Regions from separate parts of the Homo sapiens genome. Here regions 1, 2 and 4 are each reported to be linked to region 3. Evidence: microRNA targets listed by miRTarBase, many of them from high-throughput screens and not tested one by one. Region 3 holds a microRNA gene; each other region holds the end of a gene's coding sequence.

Region 1 (7,104 bases), not on the chromosome of region 3:
CCATGGGGACCTGGATGCATCCAAAGAGGGCAAAGCTTGTGTGTCCGAGGTCAACAGCTTCACGGCTGCCTTCCTCTTCTCCATTGAGACCCAGACAACCATAGGCTATGGTTTCAGATGTGTCACGGATGAATGCCCAATTGCTGTTTTCATGGTGGTGTTCCAGTCAATCGTGGGCTGCATCATCGATGCTTTCATCATTGGCGCAGTCATGGCCAAGATGGCAAAGCCAAAGAAGAGAAACGAGACTCTTGTCTTCAGTCACAATGCCGTGATTGCCATGAGAGACGGCAAGCTGTGTTTGATGTGGCGAGTGGGCAATCTTCGGAAAAGCCACTTGGTGGAAGCTCATGTTCGAGCACAGCTCCTCAAATCCAGAATTACTTCTGAAGGGGAGTATATCCCTCTGGATCAAATAGACATCAATGTTGGGTTTGACAGTGGAATCGATCGTATATTTCTGGTGTCCCCAATCACTATAGTCCATGAAATAGATGAAGACAGTCCTTTATATGATTTGAGTAAACAGGACATTGACAACGCAGACTTTGAAATCGTGGTCATACTGGAAGGCATGGTGGAAGCCACTGCCATGACGACACAGTGCCGTAGCTCTTATCTAGCAAATGAAATCCTGTGGGGCCACCGCTATGAGCCTGTGCTCTTTGAAGAGAAGCACTACTACAAAGTGGACTATTCCAGGTTCCACAAAACTTACGAAGTCCCCAACACTCCCCTTTGTAGTGCCAGAGACTTAGCAGAAAAGAAATATATCCTCTCAAATGCAAATTCATTTTGCTATGAAAATGAAGTTGCCCTCACAAGCAAAGAGGAAGACGACAGTGAAAATGGAGTTCCAGAAAGCACTAGTACGGACACGCCCCCTGACATAGACCTTCACAACCAGGCAAGTGTACCTCTAGAGCCCAGGCCCTTACGGCGAGAGTCGGAGATATGACTGACTGATTCCTTCTCTGGAATAGTTACTTTACAACACGGTCTGTTGGTCAGAGGCCCAAAACAGTTATACAGATGACGGTACTGGTCAAGATGGGTCAAGCAAGCGGCCACAAGGGACTGAGGCAAGCACAATGGTTTCAAAGAAAGACTGTAAGCTCCATGATTAGCATAAAGCACTAACCATGTCTCCATGTGACCCGATGGCACATAGATGTTGTAGAATAAGTTATGGGTTTTTATGTTTTGTTTTGTGTTTTTCCAAAACTTGAACTTGCAGGCAAGCCTTGGTTGGGTATTTGATTTATCCAGAATGCTTCTCTTTAGGGAACAAGGATGTTTTTAATGGCATAACAAAGGCAAGACTCTGCCTTAATTTTTGAAAAGCTGCTAACTACATGAACACAAATGTGTATTTTTGTTGCAGTGTAGTTTTCCTTTTGTGTAATTTTAAAGTCAGTGTTGAATTTTATTGAAAGCTCATGATGCGCTTCAAAGTGGCAAGTATTTGGCTATTAACTGCCAAAACAAGAGCCTGATTTTTTGAGGCCAGTAATTCGTTTGCTAGAATTGATTTTTTTTCTCTCTCTCTTTGTTACATAAGGGCATTATGTAACACTAGCCGAATGGTAGCCTCTGGGTTGTTGTTTTTTTCTTTTCCTCCATGATGTTAATGGGTTATCTCAAATTTTAAGTTAAACTACCTAAAATAAATACCAAAGATAATGCATATTTTTGCACAGTGGAGCTTACACTTAAAAGAAAACAAAGCCCCATGGGCTGCCTTGAAATCAAGAGACAATAACTTTGAACCTCAGCAAGACCTTGAACCGCCGGTTCATTTTGCACCTTATTCAGAAAATAGAGCATCATACTCACCGAGTCTAGTCAGTGTAGTGCTTTTAAAAATTTTGTCCTTTCATGTAACTTTTTTATTTTAAGAGGAAGAAGAAGAAAGGGGCACACACACACAATACCGACGTCTATCCTTTCCTGCTAGGCAGTGCTGGCCAGGCTCATGTGTAGTGTGCGAGATGGTGATGTACTCTTATATTTTTCTGGGCTTTTCCTTTTGCACATTCCAAAATTCATTTCATAAGACAAGATCTTCATAGGACCTCCTTGGCATCCTGGCATTCTCAAAACTGAGCCATCCAGCATGAAAGATAAATGGGTTTAAACCCTTGCTGCTGAATTTATTGCCTGGACTGTCAGGACATCACCAGCCCACCTTCACCTTAGGGAAGATGCCACACCTGGCCTCCACACTTGCTCTTCTGATCAGTCTGTCTGGATTGAGTCCTACAGTGTCAGATAGGGCGGCAAATGCCAAAGCAGGGAAACAGGGAGGTGTGGACAAGCCAGTTTGATGCAGCACTTCAGATCAAGTGCTTAGGAAGGAGAGGAAACTTGCCTTTTTTATGGCAGAGGATAGTAATGAAAATGTCTCAGTATTTTAGGGTCAATGAGAGCCATAAAAATATAACATAATCACAAGTAAAGGAGATAATGGTCTAAAACAGCTATTTCCCTTTTCTGTGTGCATACTTATGACTGAATGTGAGCTAAGCATTTTCTCCTGTGGAGCCCTAGAGCAGGTTACTAAGGAAGGACACATTGTTTTCCAGAAGCCTCCCCTGCCTGGCTGACTGCCTTGCTAGAAACATAATTTTTTTTTTCTCACTGAAGCTCAATAATGGAACTCTTTTTTTTTTTTTTTTTAATTTAAAGTTCCCTATTTGTGAATTCTGGGATTACTGACTTTTCTTTTTAATTGGAGTCTCAAAATCAACTCTCTTATGGTATTATATCTCTGTATGCCATTAAAAAACAGCTTGTTCTAGAATCATGTATTTTGTAAACTGATGTTTGTGATGGTCTCTGGTTCTTGAACAGCCATATCTGAATGCCGTGCCTGCAAAACTATGACAATTTTTGCTGTTTTCAGCCTTCAGATTTGATGGCTTGGGAAACTGAGGTGTTATTTTCAATGAAACAAAGAAAGAGATGTTAAGCAAGTGGTTGTTTTAGATCCAAATGTAAAGGCAGGTTTGGGAAGGTGTTTAAAGAGTTGGAGGAATTGGGGATTGAGTTGTAAAGAAAACTTACAGAAGAGGCAACAATTTGGTTCTTGACAGTGAGAGGATATTGAGGGCTTCAGCTGCTGCTATTATGATGTTTTGCAAAGGAAAATAATCAAACCAAAGAGTATTCAGTGATATGTAAATTAAATGAAGATACAGTGGAGAATGGGGGTGACCACAAAAGAGGCTCCCCCTAAACACACAGTGCTGCCACTTAAAAAGACTTGAGAAATTTGAAAGGGGGTGGGTATGGGGGGGGCAAGAAAGAGGGAGGGAAATCTTTCAACTTATTTCTGAAAAAGAGAAAAAAATATAAAATTTCTGGTGCACAGGTTTGTTTTTTCAAGAAAATTTTGCAGAAGCTATGTTTTTAAAGTGTACATTTTATAAAGTTTATCAGATATTTTCATATTTAAAGCCAAATGTAAATAGAGGTCTGTAAAGAAAAATAATTGCCATAGAAAGTATAATTTCAGTGCAGTAATTTCTGAGAGCTAGTACCTATATGCTACCGGTTAGCATGGTTTTAGCAAATATATACCAGCCTTATAAGGTTCGTATTGCTATGTTCTTCTGTTATTTATTTCAGCATGGACTGTTCATTTGAAACCTTTTTCTAGTTATTAGCGTTTTAACAGTTACAAGCTTTAAATGGCAATTTTTTTTTTTTTTTTTTTTTTTTTTTTTTTTTTGTCAAGAGCCAAGACACAGGTAATGCACGACATTGATTGCTGCATTTTACCTTCAAAATATTTGTCCTTATTGACTGGGTCTCCTTAATTAATGTACACATGTCATTAGAATGCAGACGGAGGGGACTCACCATGAATATCTGGGGTTGATTCCCAGATGTGTGTTGCTTCTCTATTGCAAGCAGATTCCCTGTTGGATTTACTTCGGATTTATTCCCTTTTAAAGAATTTTTGCCCATATCTGGAAGGGCACTATATTTTTGGGAGGAGCCATAGATTCCTGGTTATCCTATTTTTAAACAAAATGTAGACAAAGTGAACTCTATTTTGATTATTGAGAAAGGAGTAGTTTTCTATCCCTCTAAGAGTATACTTGAATCAGACATTTTAAGGATGTCACTATGGCACTGTTGTCATTTCCAAATTCCTAGAAAAGTTTGTTTTACTTTGTTTTTATTCTGTTAATGCATTCTTTCTTCTCTTTACTTCCTTTCTTACCAGTACACTCCTATCTCAACTCTGTTTATTTGATGAGTTCTGTCCCGTAAATCATATTTCCCTTACAATTAATAAATGTCACTTCATATTTTATAATAAACCACTCAGTAAAAGCAAAAGCTTGTCCTGAGAAGTAGAGTGAGTTCTTTTTCACTCTGTGTCTAATAATGTTAAGGTGGGAAAAAAAAAAGTGTGGCATAGCTACCTGCCCATCCCCAACCCTCAGCAAAGTAGAATCTCTTTTCTGGTAATTTTGGGTTTCCGCTCTGGGCTCTGGCAAGTTGAACAATCCTAGCCATTGACAATCGTGATAGTTATTATTTTCCCATTTGCTGTCTTTTTGTATCTAAAGTCTTCCTATTGTACTGCACAAACCATGGATTGTACATATTTTTATATATTATGTCTTATTTTATTATTTCTAAATAAAAAAATTAAAAATTGAAAACAAATTCTTGGAAGAATCTTTGGGCTTCCCGTATGATTACTCTAGAAACACCATAAAGCAAATGTTCCCAAACAATGGAACATAAACCCTGATAGGTTAGATGCATAGAGCCATAGAAATGGCCTCAACAGACAGGTGCAGTGGGGTGACAGATTAGTTTAATTCAAGTTAGAGGAAGTCAAGCTCATATTTTGTTTTTGGATAGAATAGGCTAGGTAGAAAGGGAATACAAAAGACCAATAAACAAGCCAAAAAAAAAAAAAAACTAAGAAAAATATTATCAAGTTTAGATTTTGCTTCTCTCTTTAATGGGTGATAAGGTGTAGTTGCTCTTTATCGAGCCTCAACTATGTGTAGAGTTCTTGCATTACATATTATTTTTATCTCATTCCCACAGAAACCAAATCAGGATATTATTATTTTGTATTATAGACTAAGACTTGGCAAATAAGTTCTGTAAAGGGCCAGGCAGTAAGTATTTTTTGGCTTTATGAACCAGAGGGTCTTTGTCTCAACTATGCAAATTCAGCCTTGTAATGTGAAAGCAGTTACAGACAATATGAAAACAAATGGTATGGCTGTGTTTCAAAACAATTTTACTAACATCTACAGCCAGTGGGCTAGATTTGGCTTATGGCCAGTAGTGTGTTGACCCCTGTTTTGGGTGAAGAAACTGAGTATGAATTTTAAAGCTAATGAATCAGTGAGGTAGTATTTGGATTCTGGTTTTACCTGCATCTAAACCTAGTTTTATCCATTAAACTATATATCATTTCAGGTCACAAAGCTACCAAGGATATGTAGTCCCGCCACTTTCTCTGGCAAATTTGAAATAAATAAATGTTTCTCAAGGTTGGAAATACGGAGAAAATTTGCATTCTAAAATATGGGTTGCACCTTGCTCTTTTTTCTTTAACTAATATGGCAATTATTATTTATGTTTCAAATATGACTCTAAGTCCTTTCTAAGTACTAAATAATTTAGTCTTAACAGCAAGTCTATGGAATAGGCTGTATTATTATCCTCATTTAAGAAATGAAGAAACTAAGGCTCAGAGAGGTTAAGCACCTTGTCCAAGTACATATGGGAATTATTAGTGCTGAGATTCAAACTGAGGCCATTCAATACTAGGCTGTGCTTTTTGTGACTACTCTATGCGCTTTCTTTTTGTACATATTCTTGGTAAAAGCTTCACCATTTAAGACCTTTCTGCTTTTCAGTTTTTATCCTTTTCGGTAATGAAAATACATCCTTTTTGTTTGCACAGCATACGTTAGTGCAGAATTCTTGCCTCGTTCATAACTCATTCCTAAATTCCTCATTTAATGTTTGGTGAGAGAGAACAACTTACAAGGAGTAGAGTAATTACAAACACTGGTTGTGGGATTTGGGTAAATTTCAAACTTAAGATTAATTTCAATTAACAAGGAATTGTTTAGGTCTGTCTCCAGGCGAAACCACAAAGTTCTGTTACTAACCAAGCTGCAGGAACCCGACCACATCCACACTTTTGCTTTCTGCCCATGGTAGGCAGCCAAAGGTGTAACACAATCCTCTGGGCAATTGAGATAATTAAGCCAGACCGGTTATGGTAACGCCAGGCAGTGAGTTGCATGCTATACAGGCCTCTATTTTTTATTTTATTAAATACGTATACAAAAAGAAAAGGCAGGGGTGGAATTTCAGAGTCCTTTTGCTTGGACTGTCTTTTGAGTGACAAGTGAGGCAAGACCTCCAAGCTCTAGCCTTCAGAAGCAGCAGCTTCCCAGGTCATACTTGCAAAGAAAAAAACAAATTTCCATCTAGAAATATTCATTTTCAAGCTAGCAAAACTGATTAAATGAATCGTATTTGTTTGCCCAAATTTGAGTGAGTGAATAAATGCATAAATGAATAAAGGATGGCTAGCTCTATGTCCTTTAAATGAAGTAAAGAACCAAGTCCGTGATCAGCTTATTTCAGGACCTCAGTGTTTCTTCAGGATATTTCAGACCATGGAGCTAAGTGACCTAATGATTAGTCACTATCTGAGGGTTGTTATAATGATTTTATAAAAAGAGAAATATCTAATTACAAGGTAGTACCTGCAAAGCACAAGTAGAATAAGAATATCAGAGTGCCTGGCTTAGGAACTGGGTGTCCAACTGTCCTGATTTGCCTGGGACTCAGGGATTTTCTAGCGTGCAAGACTTTCAGTGCTGAAACTGGAAAAGCTCTGGGCAAACCAGGGGAGTTGGTCATCCTCCTTTGGAAAGTAGAGAAGTAGAATGGCTGGGGGAAAGGGGAAGACCCAGTAGATAAGAATTCGCAAGGGAGGAATTGAAGCAAGGTAAACCAGAGGCAGCACGTGAGTGTTACTAAACAGAATAATAATGGTGAATAATTACTTAGGAAGTGGCTCTCTCCAACTAACTGAAATTTGTC
Region 2 (7,115 bases), not on the chromosome of region 3:
GCACTCGCGGGGTACTCTGCCCACCGGAGTCCCGGCCTCCCTCTGGCCAACAACCGGCGCCTTCAGTGCTCTGGGAATTCCCACCCCGAGGCTACCTGTTTTCCTGTGAGATCCCTGCACCTTGGACCACAGGCTTGGGCAGAGAGAAGCAAAATGGGGTAGAAAGCGAAGGGCGAGTGGGGTAACAAGTGGAGAGGAGAAGAGATGTCCATTACAGAGCAAATAATTTTATCTACTAGCTGAGAAGTGCTGAGATCTGAAACCGCACCGGGTAAACAAAAGGAAACAACTTTGGGAGGGGAAAAAAGGTTGGGGGGAGGTGGTGGCACACAGAAGATTAAGAAGAAAGGGAAAAGGTAGGGAAGCGCGCCAGCCAAGGTTCTGAAGTCACTTTTCTTGGCATCAGCCAATATGAGCTACCCAAACGTACAGCTCTGCTTGTCCTGGGCAAGAGCGCCCTCATGTTGCTGCTCCCTGCGCAGCGCCCGGCTTCACCCTCTGCGGGGATCGCCGCCGCAATGTCCCGAGAGCGCTTCTCCTCTCCTCCTCCGCCACCGCGCAGCCAGGGCGGCCCCAACTCAGCAGCTGAAGTTACTTCTCCACACCGGTTCAAAACCCGAGAAAACAACGCTGCCAGGTCCCTGCCACAACGACTTCAAGTCCCGCCATTATGCCACCTCTCCATCTTCACCCCGGAGTCCCTGAGGCGCCGGGAAAAGCTAATTAATAGGACACCGCGACGAGAGTCCCAAATTCGCTTCGGGCCGAGCCAACCTGTGTCTGGCGCGTGCTCTCAGCCACTCTGGGACAGAGAGGCTCTCGAGCGTACTACCGACGTCTCCTAAGTGTGCATTAAGAATCAATTATTTGCCTGAGATTTCCAAAGCCAGGAACTGGGATATTCCCAGCAGGGACAAAGTCAAGCCCAGAACGGTGTTCATTTCCCTAGTCTTTCGAAGAGACAGAAGAGAAGACTCCCACACGCACCCAGTGCCTCACCCGACCCGGAGCAGCCCGGCTAAATCCGACCGGGACCCTGGTGTGACCCAGGCCAAGGAGCTGGGGGCGGAGGGCCAGCTCTGGGGAAGGTTGGCTATGTTAGTGTGCAAATAGAGAAGGGCGATCCAAAGAAGAACTTTAGAGAGAAGCAGGTTCTTGGCTCTGGAGCAAAGAGCTTTAACTGAAATAAGGATAGCTAATAAACCTGTCTTTGAGCGTTAAGAACGTCCCGGAAGTTCCTGTAGCAACCATAAGACTCAGAAATCATATTTCCACGAAATGAATTAATTTACACTTTAGGACCTATTTCAGTCTCCCACTACCCCTTCTCCGTATAATTTTTTCTCGTTTTCTCTCCATGTTCCTTTGCCGTGTCTACATCCTTTTGACCTGGGGATTCACCGTGATTTCTGTCAACGTGGAAAAAAATTATGCATCCTTTCAGCTACGTCTGTTGGTAGCGAGCCTGCTAACATTTTCTAAGAAAAGATGAACACTTAAGGCCAGGACCCCAAAGTCAGGCGTTAAAACTCAGTCCAAAGCAGTCAGTTACACATATTCCCTACCCTACCCCTTCCCCTCTGAAAAGCACTTTCACTTACGGATCTTGCTGTAAGAGCCATTCCAGTCCTGATATCCTTTTCCTCGGCATCCTTCGGACAACCTCAGGCAGAGCCTTAGGTGGTGGGGAAAAACAAAAACAAAACACAGTAGAAATCGGGAGGGAGACAAGAGGCACAAAACATAACAATACATCATCTATTTGCCAGCCTGGAGCCCCCTTGGCCTACATCCTCAGGATAAGGTCCCTAGAACTGACCGCTAGGGTGGGGAATGGGTGCCTTTGGGAGCCAAAATCTGAGGTGGGTTATTTTAACTGCTAGTGATTGAGGGGAAAGGGCCCTGAAGGGAGAATAGAAAAGGGGAATGATTGGTATAGAGAAAAGAAATCTTAAAAAAAAAAAAAAAATGCACGCAAAAGAAAATCTAGCATGAAGTACTAACTGGGAAAGATCTCTAGCACCTTTTAACTCTTACAGGTAGGTAGCTCTTAGGAAGAATGCAGACGTGTGTGCCCAAAAGAGAGAATCTAGATGACCTCTATTCTTTCCATATCTCCAGGATCTGGACTTAAGTAGAAAAATAAAGAGGGGAGAATTTTAATTCAAGTTTCACCTACCCTGCTTGTTGGAATGGCTGCGCAGATTTTCATGCTGGAGAGTTCCATCTGTCTGGCAGAAGCTGAAGTGGTGTTGGGGGCAGGTTATCTGGTGAAGTAGGAATGTACAGGAACCCCGCCCTCTAGGCACAGTTACACAACCCCAGCAACCCATCTCAGCCAGTTCTAAAACCTCTAATGATCTTCACCTTCACCCTTTGTTAGTCTAATTCTCCAACAGGCTTTTAGTCTCAAACACAACCAACCACTTTAGCTGTTCATAAAATTAATTTCTCAAAACCAAAATTTTCCCAGTGCATGCAAATTCCTCAACAATGTTGTAGAAAATACACTTTTTAAAAAACTACACTTCTATAGACTTCTAAATATATTGAATTTATCCACGTATTTGGGTGAAATATGCACCAACTTAAATATATATTAAAATCAATACACTATGAGACTAAATTTTTGCCTCTCTGCCTTTGATTTTATGCAAGTCACATAAACTACATGAAGGCTTCCATGACCATAAGGATATTTGTATTAAACCTTGTTAGTTCTAGACTTCATGTTCACTTGGTTCCCAATTTTGTAACAGGCTGAAGAAACATATTTGAAATAATACTTTAACTCCTCTAGTTCAATTACATCATTTTCTCAGTGTTTTACATATTAATATTTTTTGTTAACTTTACAACAGACAAATTCAAGTAAAATACTTTAAACCTGGAAATAAACTTTAATTTGGGATTTCAAGTTTTAAGTTGTGATCAGTTTCAGTTCCAAAATTTCACAAAGGACAACCTTCATCTTATTAAAAACAATTATAATATGAAAGAAAATAATCCTCAAAAGTTTTGAAGTGTATTTCTGACATAAACTAATTTTAACGGTCAAAGTTGGAGACAACAAATAACACAACATTACAACCCGTTCGATGCAAAAATGTATTATATGCCATGCCAGACTGTCATGTGTTTTTTGAGAAGATAAGTTGAGGGATGATAAGATAGATCAAGGGAAATGAGATGTTCATATTGGGCTTCAGGAAGCCTTTACAAAGTTCTCTCTCCATATATCCACCTTCGTGTCTAGTACACCTAACAAACTTCTAGTCATATCCATTATATGTAATTTGGACATGGGTCCAAGCAGAACTCCCACTCCAATACTTCGTTTCTATGAATTCAAAGAAATCAGTTTTACTCTTGACTTCAAAGTATGATGTTTGCCATTAAAATTCTATTTATCTGTCACCCAAATAAACACTTATAAATACAAATAAGTATACTTATTTAATGTGGCCAAAAAAAATACTCATGCAGGAAAACTTTCTTCTATATCTATACCCCTTTACCTTAGCACAAGAGTTCAACTTTCTTTTTAACGTTTGGTAAGCAAAATTCTATGTTTCCCCTGTGATAATACATTCTTATTCCACAAATAAAATCCATGGCAAAAGCAAACAATAAATCATCACCTTTTTTTCAGCTTGGACACATGTCTCTCTTTGAGCTATTTTGGTTCAAAATGTGTAATGGGGATTTCCTTTGCATAAAACCATTCACTTGGACTTTATTACTATTTTTAATATCAGCCATAAATTTGACTTTTAACACAATAATTTTTTGTGAAATATTTTTATGCTTCATTCTGAAGAACTTAAATTTCAAGAAAATTTGGACCTCTGGTGAAACTGTTTTTATACTAAGAAAATAAAATCATGTCTAATTGCTTAAAGGAGATAATTAAACTAGCTGTCTTGGCTTATTTTTGTCCATTCCCCATTTGTGTATATTTGGTTCCAGCTCTTTTAATTTTCCTGGCCCTTATATATTTTTCTTAGGCCTTTCTCTCTCTCTATCATTCACCTTATGTCTCTCTCTCTCATGCATTCTTTTTGGTGGTAATTATTTTTTCACCATAAAGATCCTCTCTCTCTCTCTTTCCCTCTCTCCACTCCACAGTCCACCCCCTTCTATTTTCCAATATTAAGTATTCAGCATTTCAGTTTCAAATCTATTCCAGTAAGCTTGCTTCTCCCTTAGGCTTTTTTTTTTTTTCCTCCCCCTGAGCAACTGTCTAAGTGTTTGCTGATAACATCTTAGGGCCAGATTATTTTTCACTGGGCCCATTGTAAGAAGTAACCAGCTTATTCCAATACTGCAGAACACATTTCAGACTATACAATTGTAACAAATGAACAACTTGTCCTCCACAGATTCACCACAGGATCCAATTAGTTACTAAACCTTTTACTAAGGTTTTCTAATTATTTTCTGCAATTATAGCGATTGGGCTGCCTGAAACAATTCAAAAAATGTTTTCATTTTGTCTCACATATATACGCATATACAGTATATGCATACATATGCATATGGAAAGTTAAAATTATGACTAAACAAAAGGAACAAATCTCTAGATTGAATTACACAGACATTTAAAAGGGAATCAAATAAATACCTCTACATTGTAAAAATTAAAAAAAGAGGCATTTTACTTCTGAATATCTAGAATTCTAAATTGTTATAATTTTAAAATAAAATATAAACATTGATCTGCAAGTCATTAAACAGGTGATCACTTCAGCAAAATCTATATTGCAACTTCAGCACATCTTTATTAGAACTCTTTCATTGTGGGTAAACAGCCACAAAAATAAATGCTGACTTAGAAAGTATAAATACAAATATTTAAACAAAAATGTTTGCAGCATTCATAGCGCAAATTGTACCTGAACTGAAGGGCTCTGTGTGTCTATATATATTACATATGTGTGCATTATAGTCACTTCTATCTAACCATATACATATATTTATTTATAATTTGCCAAGCTCTATTAACAATATACCTGAAACAAAATATATAAATGGCATTCTATTAATGGATTTGGAAATAAACACAGGGTAAAGAGCTATGCACAGAAAATTAAATTATATCTCTTTTTGCTGTATATCCACAGAAACTTACAGGTATCAGCTGAAAAGCCTATACTTTGTTTAAAGCTAGTGTTTATTAAATAGGCTGCTCCTTGTAAAATTTGTTCACAAAGGGAAAAATACTATTTTCATTTTTAGAGTCAGTTCAAATTAAAGGAGCAGTTTAAATTTTAGTTTGGCTGAAAAAGCCTTTGAATTCCCTATAAGTTGATTGGTCTTTAAAAAATTAGCTCTACTTAATAAAAGAGACAAAAGTATCAAGATATATATGAATTTAGCCTATTTTTTATTTCTGTGTGTTCATAGTAAACATTTTTGTAAGTGACAAACACGGGCATATGACCACAGTATCACAATCAAGAAATTTTAAGACAACATTAACAATCACTCAAATTTATGCGGCATTTGCGCAACACAGGTTACATATTTGCAAGGTTTACCTATAAGTACAATAGGTATTAACATTTCACTACATTTAGAAAAAATAAAAGTGACCTGTTAGTGACCACATACATCAAAATATACACAACACAAACTGAAGGCAATCGTTAATTTTGTCCCCTTCTGATTCAATTGAATGGGCAGTGTTGCCAACTGAAACAACTTTCCTTTTTGTTTGTTTTAATACTTAGTATACCAAGTGCATTTTCTAGAACCCAATCTTTGGTCTAAAAGTAAACAAAAGAAAAAAAAACAGTTCTTTAAAGAAAAGGACAAAACAATAAATGGCCAAAATAATTTCTTGGGCACCTTTACTACGAATGCTTTTTAAATACAAATTACAGTTTAACATTTTAAAATTCTCCCCATAATTTAGGTTGTTCTCAAGGTCTGCGTCCACCATATAGTTCCATGATAACTTATAATACTGCACACATGGAAATCTGGCGGCTCTTAGAGATAGACTTGTCAGGTTTGAATGAAATGGCAAAGCAGTCACTATTTAGATACACATTCTACTATAATTTGACTTCCAAACCTTATATTCTACAATGTATTCTCCCCACATTGCACCTCGCTGACACTCCACACCTTGTTAGAATAATAAACAACCCTAGAGACTGAACAAACGTACAGAAATGGGAGGGGGGGGCTTAATAAAAAATACCTGGACTTATTTTTTTAATTATCATTTACAATGCAAATGTGTGTAAAACGTTCACTTACAGTCTGGTCCCAGGGATGTTAATGTATTAAAGGGTTGGAAGAAGACCCCTGATTTTGATGTGTGAAATAATCAGACAGTCCCCCAGACAGTCCCGTCGTAAAACTTGGCAAAGAGGGTCTTAAAGACTCACAGGGCAGGGTCGAGGGGGCCTGCGGCGACGTGGAGGAGGACGCGGCCCTGGCGCTCATGGACGTGCTGCTCTGCGAAGTCATTGACGGGTGCGGGACGTGGGGGAAAAAGTAACTGGTCTGGCCCGCGAGCAGGTTGACGGAGCAGGGGTTGAGGGAGTAGGTCCCAGAGCAGGGCACCGACAGGCCGCAGGGCACCGAGGCGGCTAGCGCGGCGGCCGTGAGGTGGTGCGTGGCGTACGGGATCTCCCCGTTGACCAGCCGGTCCACGCTCAGGCCGTTGGCGGTGGAGAAGGAGTGGTTGTTGCCCAGCGAGTTCTGAGTCAACACGGAGCTGTAGGGCATGGGGTGGCTGGGGTAGGCCGACGTGGTGCCGTTGTAACTCAAAGTGCTGCTGGCGCGGGGGTGGTGCAGGGACAGGAAGGGCGACATGGGCCAGTAGAGGGAGCCGGCGCGGTCCATGAAGGTGAGGCCGGTGGAGGTGAGGCGCGCACCGCGCTTGAAGGCCAGCTTGGCCCGCGAGGTGGTGGAGCGGCGCCGCAGCTTGCCCGTGGTGCCGCCGATGAACACGTCGTCGCTCGACGGGTCCAGCATCCAGTAGTTGCCCTTGCCCGGGTCGTCGTAGTGGCGCGGCACCTTCACGAAGCACTTGTTGAGGGACAGATTGTGGCGGATGGAGTTCTGCCAGCCCTGCTTGTTCTCGCGGTAGTAAGGGAAGT
Region 3 (7,125 bases):
AGAGCTGGATTTCTTATTTTGGAAGATATTCAAAGTGAAAATAAAATGAAGTCACCTTAATATTATAATGGCAAAATATATGATTTGTACCATTTTAAGAAGTTGCTTGAGTCAGTGAAAAACAATTGAGGTTTCCTAACTTTGGAAATCACAGATGTAAAATGTTGATTAGTCGTGCATATTCTACTACTTTTTAACATGTTAACATAATTTGAAAATGTACATTTTATGGGCTTAACTAGTTGCAAATTAAGCAGAACAATATAAAACTGTTAATATTTTAAAAACTAAGCATAAGGTAGTTTGGTAAATTTTAAGAACACACATGTTTTAGTTGGAACAGATGTGAAAGACATATTATTTTAAAGGAAAATGGGGTCCACAGCTATCTGTTTGGAAATGTCTTTCAATTACAGTGGCGTCCATGACTGTTGGATTAGAATGAAGATTTGGCTGGAAGTTCTCTCTGTCCTATTCTGTGTTTCCTTTTGAATAAGAAACAGCATGTGTGAAGTACATTTACTATAATCCATTCCATACTGGGTAATAAAAATTCTGTGAAGAATGATTATGCATGTTATGAAATTATTCCGATTATGTTTTTTTCCACTTTCAGCTCACTAGTATTTTTAAGTTTATATAAATTTTACAGAGTGTGTTGATATATTAATTTATTTTTAAAAATGGGAATATGGAATAACTAACTCTCATTATAGATAATCGCATTCCATTGGTGGTGTGACTTCCTGTATTTTACCAAATGTGAAACAGTATTCACTGAAAAAGAAATAAAAATTTTCTGAGTGAGCAATAAACCAACCAATTAGAAATGAATTCTTGCATTTTAAGTTGGCAAGTTGCAGTATGAGATTATTTGCATTTACCAATTCATATGTTAAACTCTAGGATTACACTGAACTTTAAAAAATAAGACAGTTGAAAGGGTAACTTTTAGTTCACATTACAAATAAAATGAATGATTATGTTACCCGTATCATTCACTTAAGCTTAAATATTAAAATTTTGGTTAATGAAATGCAAGTTAACATGTATACTTAATTATTATGTAAGTTACTAATCATCAGAAAATATTTTTATGCTTGATTTTAGTAAATTCGTTTATATTGAAATCTTCGTATTGTTCCCATAAGGAAGTAATACATAGGTGCTTATGTGTATATTTGTACACATGACTGTTTAATTCAAATTGACAAGAGAGAAACTTTGATTTTGTTACTTTGAATGAAAATGATTACAAATAAGGTACATTTATTACCAGTATGTAATTTATATAAAGTTTATGGTAGCATCCTCAAATAAGAATATTTGACATATTTGTTCTAGGCATTATGTCAGTGAATACCACAGTTTTCTTCTTTCAAATTAAAAAAAAATCTTATATTACAGTGATGCTTTTCAGGGTAGGCCTAAAGAGAATGGACTTTGGAACCAAACTGTCACTTAATAACTGTGTGACTTCTGGTAAGCTGCTTAACCCCTATGAGCTTCATTTTTTATTGTCTCTAAAGTGAAAGGTGTTCTGAGCATTAAGAAGGTTCAAAAATGTAAAGTGCTTACAAACAGTACTTTGCACATCATAAGTACTATTAGCATATGATATCTGTTAGTTTTTTTACCAGCTGCACCTAAAAAATATGAGGCTTTAGGATCTTGTTAAGTTTGTTAATATTTTTAAAATGTGCATCAAAATGGGATATACTTTAGACATTTTGATCATGGGTTAATTTTTTATTAATGTAATAAGTCATACTTGCTTTCATTCAACATTGAACAATTTAACTTTCATTTAATGGTAACTTACTAGAAATAGACAAAATATATATGGCAGTTATACAAACAATATTTTGTATGATAATACAATTAGAGAACATATAAATACAGCACTCATTATGTTTACATTTTAGGATTTTATTAAACATTTGTAGAATTGAATAAGAAATGTTAACAAATATTTACACTGAGTATTGTTACTAATTAATTTTCAAAATTATAAATGTTTTTCTTTCATCATTTTGCTTTTCATTTTTCTCTATTGCACAGAAGATTTTTATCTGTCGCACAGAATAATGATTCTTACAGTCTCTGATTTGGTTGATGGGGTGTATAACATTTGACTGAGTGAGTCTTTGCAGATGTTTATATGGACGGAAGCTAGATTATAGTATTTCAGATACAAACTGACTGACTTTCCTTGGAACAGAAAAATTCTTGTCAGTTAAGCCACAGACTCACATAAATAAGGCTCTAGACTTAAAGAAACATAATGTTTAACTAATCTTTGAAAAACCTGAGTTCAAAGTCATGTATTGATTGCAAAAAAGGAAAACATTTCTGAATTATGAATGGCTTTTGTACTGCTGTCAGATGAAACATATTCCTTTTAGGGTTAAAGACAGAAAAAAATACCCACAGAGAAACAGAAAATGTGTTATAGGTTTAACAGTGGTTTCAAGTAATGTGAAAAATTATGCTACTGTGAAACTACTGAAGAATTATCATCTGACTATTGAATTACCTACAAATGTCAGTCTTCTATATTTAGTGGGGTTGGTTGCCTGACCATAGTGTAGGAAAAATAGTCTTTTGGATGACGAAGTATTTTTGCTGTATTCTTTATTCTAAAACAAATGACTTTTTTTTTTCACTGTAAGAAGCCCAGGAAATGATCTTAATGGAGTTAAAGAAATATGCAAAAAATACTTTTTTTTATAAAATTACTTAAGGTGCTGCAGAATTGTGGAGATTCATGCTCTAATTGTAATTCCTCAGATGACCAGAGCAGGTCTCAGGTTACATTATTTGTATATAATTTTAAGTTCTGAAGGGTATAATAAAATAGTTAAAAATTAAGCTGAGTTGTTTTTTTCTGGCAAGGAAAAATAGACTTAAATCTTTATATTGGAAGCATTCATTAATCACATATATACATTTAATCCAATGCAACAACAGTATTTTAAAATAGATCTTAAGAAATAGGTGTATTTTATTGTCTTTGAGTTAATACATTTTGAAATATAAAATTGTATGCATTTCTAATTTTAAAGATGTTGTGTCTTTAAAGATGACAACAGCCCTTATAAGCACTAGTAAAAGATGTAATTATTTCTAGTCTTAAGATTTTAAAATGTTATAAAATAGCACAGATATTTGTTAAGTAACAGTATGGGAAATAAAGTGTTGTAATTGGTCTGTTATAAAGCTATTCTGTTGCATTTTTCTATATCCTTAATTACATGATTTAGTTTCATATTATTCAAAGCTTAAAATAACAGATATGATTAGAAGTTAGTACATTTACTTAAAAATAATAGGTAGCTATTTCATGATAATAATTAAGATGTTGGTGTTCCAAATGTAACTTCAGGTAGTGTGACTTAACTCAGAGTAACTCAAGGAAAGATATAGCAGCTTAGTCAAAAACCACTCATGTTACCTGTTATAAATAACCCTGGATCAAACTAATTTTCTTAAAAATTAACTTATATCAAGAAGTTATTTTAACTGTGTCGTTGTTACAGATGAGACATTGATTCATTGTTATATGCTATTCCCAAGTTCTGAAACTTGATTTGTTTTCACAAGTGAAAATTTCAGCAAATTAATGTATTGGGACTGATTCTTTTCTTTTTCTTTGTTTTCTTATGGTTAATTAAGAAAACAAATATTTTAACCTAAAGATATAACAAAGTATTAGGAGGAAGGTTTCTAGTTTTAAATTGCAAGGCTTGTGTGTTCCATAAGCCACCAGTGTTTAATTCAGTATTTCCATCTAAGAACTTACATTATAGCAAATGAGGTAGACATTTATACCTTTTTTTTCTGCTGCTGTTGAATACAAAATGACACTCAGTATTTGTAAAAGTGATCCTGTTTCAAATCAGAAAACTGCATCACTAGAATATGTATTCCTATTTTGAAAAGCTATTTTTAAAATATTTTTTTGTTCCTGCCTGGCTTTCATATTGATTAGACCAGCTCTTAAGAAGATATGATTAAGTATCATTTTAAAGTAAAAATGGGTATTCAAAGCATATAACATTTCAGATAATATCTTGTTCAGCAGACCAAAAGATAAGTTGAGAACTTTGAGAGATTTTTTTATTTCTAGAAATGCAGTGATGGAACATTATCAAGTTTGGGTTATTAAACAGTATTCAGAGTAAGAAGAAATCTGAATGCTTTTGTAAGTTTACAGTCTGAATAGATGCTAATTGCAGATGAGAAATACAGCTTTAAGTTTCTTACGTTGTATGTAATTTGGGTTTTTTTGGTGATTAATATGGCAGTTAGACTCACTTTACACTTTGTAAATTCAAAGAAAAGCAATTATCTAACAAAGTCAAATTCTTATTAAAAGACATGGGGTAAAACCATTATGCATTGTATTTTTAGGTCCCAATACATGTGGGCCCTAAAAATACAATGCATAATGGTTTTTCACTCTTTATCTTCTTATTTTATGTAAATGAAAAAATAGTATTGTCAATTTTTTTCTGCAAATACCACAAAACTTTTGTCTTTCTCATAGTTTACCTTAATTTTGTTACATTGCATATTTCAATTTGAATTCTTATTTTTTAATTAGTTTTAAAAAGCATGTATTATAGAGGATATATGAAGTATTCATCCAACCAAATAGCATAATTTAACTGATCTTTGAAAAATGTTTATTGGTTAAATGCACTTAGTAACAATGTATGTAAAGAAGAAACACCATGTAAAACAGGAGCCACTTAAAAATTCCTTGGTAGATTTATTTTTCTTTCAAATCATTTAAGTTATTAGATCATAGTATGAACTATTGTTCATGAGTTTTTGAGTCATTTATTTTAAAAATTTCATGAAAAAATCTGAAATGATCAAGTGACATTTTCTCTCCATTTACTTGATTATTTGTTCATTCAGTGTTAATTGAACACAATTTTATTGGATGCATCAAAATATTAAAAAATAATCTTTATTCCTATTTCTGATACTTAAAACCAATTTAAATATGTAGTAGCAATTTTAATATTAAAATGAGAAATGAGTATTGAAGAATTATGTCTTAAAACGAAACTTCTTCCTCCACTGTTGAATTTAGCATACTATTTTTTATGTTAACCTTTTGTACCAGGGATTTTTTTTTCTTCTCCTCAGAAGCTGAGGATGTGTTATTTTAGATGTATCTTTACCAAGGAAGAGATGGTAAATCCATGTTGTGGCTTTTTACGTATTTTATAAAGACAGGGTTTTAAAAAAATAATATAGCAACACTGTAAGTCAATCTTCTCCATGTTTTCTTGAATCATTTTTGTATTCTCATCTTTTATCAGTAGTTGTCACACTTTTTATGGAACCAAATGCCTAATAATTGAAACACATACACATGATCTTTGAGAAATCATGAAAATACAATTCTTGTGCTTAGTGATATCCAGAAAGCATAATATTCTGAAAAAAGTTATTCCCTTCAGTCAATTTAAAATTAAACACTCTAATGCAAAAGGATATCTAAGGTGAAAGATGTTTGTGTAATGCTAAACATAACCAAAGAAACTGTGGTTTTAGCAAAGGTACTATTGCTCTATTTTATCAAGTGCCAGAAATTGCATAATGAAAGTCTTTCAGTTAGTGAAAATATAAGTATAAAAACACAAAAATACCACCCAGCTGGTAGAGATCTTCCTAATTTTTACCTGATTGTATTTCTGAAGAAATATGGCAGGGCTGTCGTAAATTTTCAACATGAACTGCATTTTTGTTGCCAATTTCCATATCCTTTAAAAAGTGCTGAAGCGTGCATTTGCTATTTATGTTTGCAGTAGACTGAGTACACTTTTACTATTTGTGGTTTTAGAAATTGGAAACAACCAAACAGTGGTGCTATGGTCTAAAAAAATAAATTTTAAACAGCTGCGGGACAGTATTTTTAGAATGGTAGGAGTACTTCTAAAGCAATATATCTGCCCCCTACCCCCTTTTAAAATGATTGAATATTGTCACAGATATAAAGTCAGATATCTATTGTGTATTATCTATGGTAGATTGGATAAATTAAACTAAAAGTATATTTTGATAGATGTGAAATATATTTTTAGCGTGCTAGTGTCAGCTCACTTTTCTAACCTGTAAATATTTGTTACTATATGCCAGCTACTGGCATATACACTTCATAGGCGTTGAATCTTCTCCTTCCTTGGGTAAGAATGATCATTATTCCCATCTTACAAATAAGAAAACTGATGTAAGTAACTTGCCCGGGATCAGAAAGTTTGTAACTACCGACCTCAGTGAGATTCAAACTAAAGACTCATGAATCCAATTGTTTTTCACCTTATGTTTGGGGCAGATACTATTAAAAGAGGAAAAGAAATAATATGTACCCTAGTTTTAACTTCAAGTATTTTTCTGCTGATGTTACTGAAATATGAACAAATATAAAAATCTAGATAGCAATTCTTCATTGCATTTAAATCTATTGAAACTACTAAGTCAAAAACAATCAGAAATGAAAAACAAATCGATCATATCACAATCAAAATAATAACCTTAATTTGATATGACAGACTTTTAACTCCTGAAAATAAATTCCCTTTCTTAATATGACTACTGTGTTCTAAAAGTTTGTTACATCTTCCCAGTGCTTTGCAATTCTTTTGACATTATGGCACAAGTGAAAAATGATAATATTCATAGGGCCACTGGATATAGAAGCACAAGGTTGTTCTTGACAGCAGACAATTCAGGGGTTCCTAAATGCCTCTGGTCCCACCAGTCAGGCATTCCATAGGCTGAGAGCATTAAAACCTACACACCTGTACCTAGTTGGTGGCTTTTGTTCCTAAGGGCATGGGTTGGAAAGCTCTGATCATTGCTCTCTTTTTCTGTAAGATAACAAACACAATTTCCTGTGACTTTTCTCTGTTCCAGTTATTATGAAACCATTGTATAATATATCATAGCATCACTTGGCCATTATTTTGTATTAAGCTAGCCTCATTTCACGTCCCTTCTTTCTTTTCCATTATCCTGCCACAAAAAGCCAATTTTTTGTGCCAATTCATTGTTTTTTATTGACATAAAAATTTAATTATACAAGAAATATTACAGAAAATTTGCAAA
Region 4 (7,125 bases), not on the chromosome of region 3:
TCCCATGTATAGGATTCTCACCTCTTCCCTGAAGCATGCCTCTTCTAGCACATTGGCAACAAAACTCTCTCATGTAGAGTGTTTACATTGTTGGTGAACTTTCCCATCTCCTTGTTGCCTCATATCTCCAAATGTCTGAAGTGACCCCACTTGGGGAAAGAATAAACAGAGGCACAAAGAGGCCCCATGGCTTGTTCTGTTGGAGGAACTCAGGTCACCAGATGCCCATGCACCTGCTCCCGCCAGACTCTCTCTGTGGAGTTGGTGTTTTTCTGTGCTGACCTGCCCTCAGGCCATGGCTGCCACCACTACACTTCAGTGATGCGCCCTGGGGTGGGGAAGGGTACCCTACACCTCATGAAATTCTAAGGGAAGGACATAGAACTGCTACTTCTGACATGTCCTTATTTTATAGCCTCAACTGTCTAACATGCACATATTCATCCCAATTAATTCTTAGGAAGGGATTCTTGCTTTGAAAATTCCCCCGCAGCATTCTTTCTGAGAAACGCTGTCATGTCCTCTCCTATCTTCAATTATCTTGCAAAAAACCACCTCTGTGTAGTGTCCCAACCTGACCCAAACACACATAGAGATGCACAAACACACACACACACACACCCTCCATGAAGCCTCTCCTGCTGCAGCCTAGGTCCCCTCTGTGCAATCTGTACATGGCAGCAGTGCTCAGGCACCATAGGTAGGTGGGCAAACACAAAGTGGCAGATGGTTGCTTACGGTGCTACCAGTGTTGCCATTGTTTCTCCAACCTCACAAACAAGACTTCCAGCTTCTTGAGCAAGTATAGGAAGCTGCAAAGCCAGAGAGCTGCTGTTACAGCTGTATAGCTGCTGGGTCCACCTCTGGCATGATCTACTACAGCACAGTCTCCCACAAGTATATCTGGTTGGCGGGACCTAAAATCACATCCTGAACCTGGCTGCAAGGGAGTCTGGGAATTGTAGTTTTACTCTTTCCAACCTGGATATCTCCCTGTGTAACCCTAGGCAGACAAATACCCAGTCAATCCCCAGTACCTACATTCCTGAAGAGAGAAGGCAAGTCCTGTTCTCATTTGACACTGTAAGTGGGAAGTTCTCTAACTTAAAAAGTCACACTGAAGGGTGGAGCTAGGATATGGCAGAATACAACTCAGACACTGAAGGGCTTTATGTGAATCACCCATCCCTTCAGCTTCCAGTGACCTCAGTTCTTTTTTTTTTTTTTTTTTCTTTGAGACGGAGTTTCACTCTATCGCCCAGGCTGGAGTGCAGTGATGTAATCTCGCCTCACTGCAGCCTCCGCCTCCCAGGTTCAAGCGATTATTCTGCCTCAGCCTCATGAGGAGCTGGGACTACAGGCACGCACCACCATGCTCGGCTAATTTTTGTATTTTTAGTAGAGATGGGGTTTCACCATATTGGCCAGGCTGGTCTTGAACTCCTGACCTCGTGATCCACCCACCTCGGCCTCCCAAAGTGCTGGGATTACAGGCATGAGCCACTGCACCTGGCCAACCTCAGTTCTTAGGAAGGCAGGAACTTGGTTTCCAAGAAACTTTCTTTGCTTTTCACTTGCTTCATGGGCTAAACTATTGACAGACTTACCAGGTCTCTGGTCATGATGGTATAGGCTATGTCAGGTAACAGCCCCATGACTATCCATGGTTTAACAGTAAAATGATGGAGTTTATGTCTTATTCATGGCATCTGTCCAGTGTAGGTCGGGAAGGGGTTTTAGCATGACCCAGGACTTAGGCTCCATTTTCACACTCACTCCCACACACATTCCTGGAGAGGCAGGAAAAGTAGAATGTGGCAAATTGTACATTTGTCTCTGCGAGGAAGAGACATGTTGCTTACACACCTACTTCATGAGCCAAAGCAAGTCACACAGCTCGCTTACTTCAAAGGGAGAAAACCAAAGTCCTCCCATTAACCCGGGGACAGGAGAACCGACCTGTGGTAAACAGCACTAATGAGGAGTCTGTGCCCGTGACGTGCCCCTAGTGTACTCATCACTCGGCCGGGATAACTGACATTCTTCCATCACCATTTTTCTTTCCCTCCAGGCACTTAACATTTCAACTTTAAAGATACTGATACAATTTTCACTTGAAAATGGCCTATGAAAAAACAGCACAGTCCCCAGAGGCAAAATTCTAATCATGCTTTTCCACAAATACTTCAGTGGTTCTCAGTCTGTCATGATTTAGTGGGCTGAGAATGCTCTGTGTTGTGTTTTATGTAAAAATTCTGCCTGTCTTCCTTAGATCAGGAAGGAAGAAAACAGGCCCAAGAGGTTGGCCCCAGACGGTTTCTCAGTTCCAGTGCCCATCCTGCTACAGGCTTTCTCTGACCACCTCCTCCCCAGTTTGAAGCCATTTCTGACTTTCTTGAGCATCCCCCTTTCATGTTCCCTCACCGTATTATCAGTGTTTGCATAAGTGCCTCATCCCCTCTACTAGGCTGTGAGCTCTTTGATCCATATAGAATTGTCTCTACACTCAGGTAGACTTTATATTGAGTGTTTTTGAATGACTCAAGGAATGAATCTCTATATTCTCCCTCAGGATGTTTTCTGTAAGAGGTGCTCAGCATCTTTTGAATATAAAAAAGATCGATGGATGAATGGATGGAGAAATTAAATAAAGGATTGAGGATGTATAGACTCCAGACAGCATCACATAGGAAGAATAAACAAGCCTATTCTCTTCAGGTCATTCAGCAGATTCTGATGAGTTAACTCATAAATACAGGTTTTGGAACCAAATGGAAGTGGGGATGACTCAGGGCAACCACTCATCACTCTGCAAACCAAGGCCCATGCCCTGCTATGGTTCAGTGGTGTCATCTGGAAATATTCATGTAAATGAGCACCCCAGTTTTCTAAGAGCTGTTTTTTTCTTCCTCTCTTCTTTTTTCCATTTCCTGGATTCCCAACTTCCTAGGTAGCCCTTTAGAAATGCAAATATAGGCCTGGCGCAGTGGCTCTCGCCTATGCCTGTAATCCCAGCACTTTGGGAGGCTGAGGTGGACAGATCACTTGAGGTCAGAAATTCAAGACCAGCCTGGCCAACATGGTGAAACCCTGTTTTCACTAAAAGTAAAAAAAAAAAAAAAAAATTAGCCAGGCGTGGTGGTGGAGTACCTGTAGTCCCAGCTACTTGGGAGGCTGAGGCACAAGAATGGCTTGAACCTGGGAGGCAGAGGTGGCAGTGAGCTGGGATCATGCCACTACACTCCAGCCTGTGCGACAGAGTGAGACTGTCTCAAAAAAAGGGAAATGCAAATATAAGCTTTCATCTCCCCTTCACTAGACATTCCCTACAGGGCAAGTTCATCTCTCTGCTCCAAAATAGTCCTCCAGAATTGACTGCCAATTTGCAGACCAAAACATGCCCTCCTTGAGCTTTCACCTCCAGGGGTTGCCTTGGAACTCCCACCCTCCAGGGGCTGCCTCAGGACTTTCATTCACTAGGAGGTTATATCTAAAGTATGCCTACTTGGCCACTTTTAAAATTTATTTTTGCCCAGGAAGGCCCGACTCAACTGTCCAGTAGATAAGGCACCATGCTATCAGGCGGACCCTTGCTCACTTGCTCCCTTACCTTATAAAAGTGCCTGCTTTCTGCTCCAAAGGGGAAGCGGCACATTGAAAGGCAGGACGTTGTGTGCCCCTCCTCCAAGCTAGCTTTGGAATACATTCACTTTATTGGTATCAGACTTTACTCTTGTCCGTGGGACTTTGCATACATTGAGCAACTAACCCGCATTTCAGTTACATTCATGTCACACTTTGGTCATGATTTAGCTCTTTGGTACCAGGGGCAAGCTTTGCTTGGTCAGTAGCATAGGGTGTTGCTGTGTTTATTGGATGGATTCCATGGCCCAGACTGAGTAATGTCGGGGCAAGGAACAACAGGACAAGTGCTCTAGAAATTCTTGTCTGTGGGGCTGACATGACATGTCTCTGCTTTCCCTATTAAATGTTTCCTGGGCTGAGGCATGAGATCTCCCAGGCCCCTGAAGCCTGGAAGGGGTCAGAAAGCCAAGGCAGCAAGGCTAGAGGGCACTGCCAGGGAAAGTGACCCACATCTGTCCCCTCAAACATCAGTTCCTCTTTCCAGGGAGATGGGAGCTGTGCAAACATGGAATTCCCACACCTCACAGGTCTCTCCTGGGTGGAGACTTCAAGATGGAGAGAGGGAAGAGAGGCAGCATATGTAGAAGGGCAGGAAAGTGGCATGTGTGTCCAGTGGCAGTGAAGAAAGGGGATAACAGACATCTCCCTTTCCTATAAAATAAAAAGACAGGAACTTCACCTACCTCTGCTATTTCCTTCCCATTTCTCCTTCAGCTTGAAGAAAGGTGTGGAGTTGAGAAATGGTCCCTAACCTGCACTCGGCACTCAAGGGTTTTCTCCAGAGCAGGTGAGACCTCTTTGCCTGGCCTTTGTCTGCCCTTCATTTCATGTGAAAGAGAAATGTGTATTTGCAGAAGGAAGCCCAGGGGCTTAGGGAACATCTTCACTCCAGAGGAGCAGGGAGCGGTGGCTCCACCAGCTGTGCCTGGGTTGGTCACTGAGCCTAGACAAACTCCAGCCCACTGGGAAGCTGGTTGTGGATGCTGGCCATTGGGTGGCCCCAGTGAGCCCTTTCCAGCCAAAGATTTCACCAGGAACTCCAAGTAAGAACCCAGCCCTTCTCCCTCAGCCTCCATTGAATGATGCTCTGTGGCCAGGCAGGTACCAAAGAATAAATGTACTGTATTAACATGAAGACTAATGACAAATGCACTGCAGTAGTAAGCACGTCATAGATGCATAGAATATTCTCTATATAGTCTGAATATGGATATAAAATAAGTTATACTCATTTTGTTTTCCATCACAGTAGGAGCATAGCATACAAAGTGATTGGTTCAGTGGCCATGAAGCAAGCCAGGGGAGAGACCACAGAAGAGAATGTAGGGCATTGAGTACAGTGGGGATTTGCCAAGGACACTGCAGAGTCCCTGGGGACCCTCTGGGGAACAAGGCCCCAAACCTCTCAAGTTAGCCTTCTGAGAATAGTATGAGGTCCCACTTGACAAGAGACAGTGGCTGCATCTGAGCTGGGATGATTCAGGCAACTGGGTGGGAGGCAGAGCAGGGACAGGCACGAACAGCATCCAGCAGGCTAGCCCACTCTCCTGCTGGTGCTGTTGGATGTCTATGATGCTGGGAATATGGGGCGCAGAGCCAGAAGGCACGGTTTGCTTCTGTGACGTGACAGATGGCCAGACTGATGGGCCACCAAATGCTGGCCGGCCCTCCTCCCTTGCCAGCCTGTCCTGGGAGGCTGCAGGGGGCCTGCATACTTTGCTTGTTCTCCATAGTTTGTCATTGGGTATCAATGCTGGGATCCTGCATACATCATAGCACAGACAAGTGTGTGAGGGTCTGAGGCCCTGGCTTTGAATCCTCTCTCCATCACGTGACTTCTGTGAGTTTCAGAAGGTCGCCTAAACCCTTCTGAGGCTACTCAGCCTCCTCAACTGCAAAATGGGAAGGCTAATGCATACTTCCCTGGGGCATCAGTGAGGGCCACATAGAATAATGTATATAAAGTGCCTAACACAGCTCCTGGTACGCAGGAGGGGCTGGGTAAATGTGAGTCAAGTATGAACATCTAAACATCATAGGCCAGGTGGAAAGAACATCTAACAAAATCTATGAACTAAAACCACCTTGACTGGTTTTCAATAGACTACAGGACAATTTCCTCACTCTTATCAATTTTTTTCTCTTCTCTCTCCCGCTCTGGGATTCTTTAAAATGAAATACTGGCAGAGTTCAAAGCAAGGTTTGCCGAAGAAGACAGAGGCTTAGATTAGGAAAGAACAGAGCTCCTGGGCCAATGTCTCTAGAAGACGCTTCCTTTCTCACCTCTCCTCCCTGCAGCTGCCCGCCTGCCCTCAGATCTCCTAGCTCTTGAATGGATTTCTTATTAGGAAGCCAAAGCAGATAGGGGAAGCACAGAAAAAGAAGTGAATTGTCTACTAAATGAAAAGTCTTTTCCATTTGCTCAGAGCCCGGGTGTGGAAGCACTGGGGAATCTGGAGGTGGGTTGGCCATCTGTGCTGGCAAGTGAATTGCCTCAGGTCTGGTATCTGGGGAGTGGCCGAGGAGAGGGGAAGAGCGATAGAGACTTAGGCTTAGACTCTGGGGCCTGGGAGTGCTCTTGTCCTTCTAATCCCGAGAACTTGGAGGTGTGCCCAAACAAGTATCAGCTGCAAACATGGGCGTCATGGTCCTCTCTCACCTACAGAGCAATGTCAAGATATGCATATGTGTGTGTGCATGTTTGTGTGTGTGTGTGTGTGTGTGTGTGTGTGTGTAGTCACCGCTCCCATCTCCTCCTCTAACACTGCCCGTCTGAATGTCCCCCCACCCCATCACTCGGCAACTTTCCTCTTGGACGGGGGCAGGAGGTGGGCAGGCAGCTCGTTGGGCAGCTCGTGCCCCTCCAGCTTGACTTTGATGAGGTGGTTGGCCAGTGCAAACTCGTCGTCGTCCAGCATGCCATCCTTGTCAATGTCGGCCAGCTTCCAGATCTTGCCCAGCACACTGTTGGGCAGCTTGGAGCGCACCATCTCCTTCTTGGCATTAGCGCCTGTGATCTTGCCATCCACCGGTGACAGGGTGTAGAAGATCTCGTCGTACATGGGCTTGTCCCTGGCCACCACCCACTCAGCATCATCGATACCTTCTCCAGCCCCCTCCCCATAGCCATGCCCAAAGGGGCCGTGCAGGGTGCCCTCGAACGCTCCGCCCTTCACCATCTGGATGGGCCGCTGTGACTCCTCCTGGCGCACTAGCACCATGAGCTGGGCAATGTCATGGGCCAGCATGTCGTCCACTACCTCCAGCAGCTTGCTCTTCAGCGGCTGGAACTTGCTAAAGTCCTGGGCCTGCAGCTGGTCCTGGGAAGAGGAGGAGAGAGGATGAAGATAGGATACGATGAAAGGAGAGCCCTCCATTTATCACGTGCCTCCTATGAGCACCAGAATGTTCACAGCTGATCCCTTTCTACAATGAAAGACCTGTGACCTAGAGGCTCAGCTGATGGACATCACGTGGTAA

The links. The annotated mature microRNA hsa-miR-586 reads UAUGCAUUGUAUUUUUAGGUCC and lies in region 3 at 4,396-4,417, shown strand. An mRNA with a match to its seed (bases 2 to 7 or 8) in the 3' UTR can be bound and repressed. Matches are read on the target gene's strand: a 7mer-m8 pairs with bases 2 to 8, a 7mer-A1 pairs with bases 2 to 7 and ends in A, and an 8mer does both.
Region 1: miRTarBase lists KCNJ2 as a target of hsa-miR-586. Seed matches in the 3' UTR shown: 8mer at 1,682-1,689 and 7mer-m8 at 4,197-4,203.
Region 2: the mRNA of FOXG1 is a reported target of hsa-miR-586. The part of its 3' UTR that is shown has no 7-base or 8-base seed match.
Region 4: miRTarBase lists EHD3 as a target of hsa-miR-586. Seed matches in the 3' UTR shown: 7mer-A1 at 6,324-6,330.

The regions. Positions count from the first base shown.
Region 1 is chr17:70,175,366-70,182,469 of GRCh38, forward strand. KCNJ2 (potassium inwardly rectifying channel subfamily J member 2) reads left to right here. Exons shown (of 2, transcript NM_000891.3): 2 at 1-4,679. The coding sequence ends at 958. Among named protein-coding and RNA genes, the nearest start is that of KCNJ2, 9.4 kb to the left of the region's middle.
Region 2 is chr14:28,767,920-28,775,034 of GRCh38, reverse strand. It overlaps FOXG1 (forkhead box G1), which reads right to left. Exons shown (of 1, transcript NM_005249.5): 1 at 4,758-7,115. The coding sequence ends at 6,286. It overlaps LINC01551 (long intergenic non-protein coding RNA 1551), which reads right to left and starts at 2,331. Exons shown (of 3, transcript NR_026731.1): 1 at 2,180-2,331; 2 at 1,602-1,675. RefSeq lists an enhancer at 245-744.
Region 3 is chr6:45,195,026-45,202,150 of GRCh38, reverse strand. MIR586 (microRNA 586) reads left to right here and starts at 4,381; the gene lies at 4,381-4,477. The region is part of intron 2 of SUPT3H (SPT3 homolog, SAGA and STAGA complex component); the gene reads left to right.
Region 4 is chr2:31,266,017-31,273,141 of GRCh38, reverse strand. It overlaps EHD3 (EH domain containing 3), which reads right to left. Exons shown (of 6, transcript NM_014600.3): 6 at 3,691-6,965. The coding sequence ends at 6,438. Among named protein-coding and RNA genes, the nearest start is that of EHD3, 35 kb to the right of the region's middle.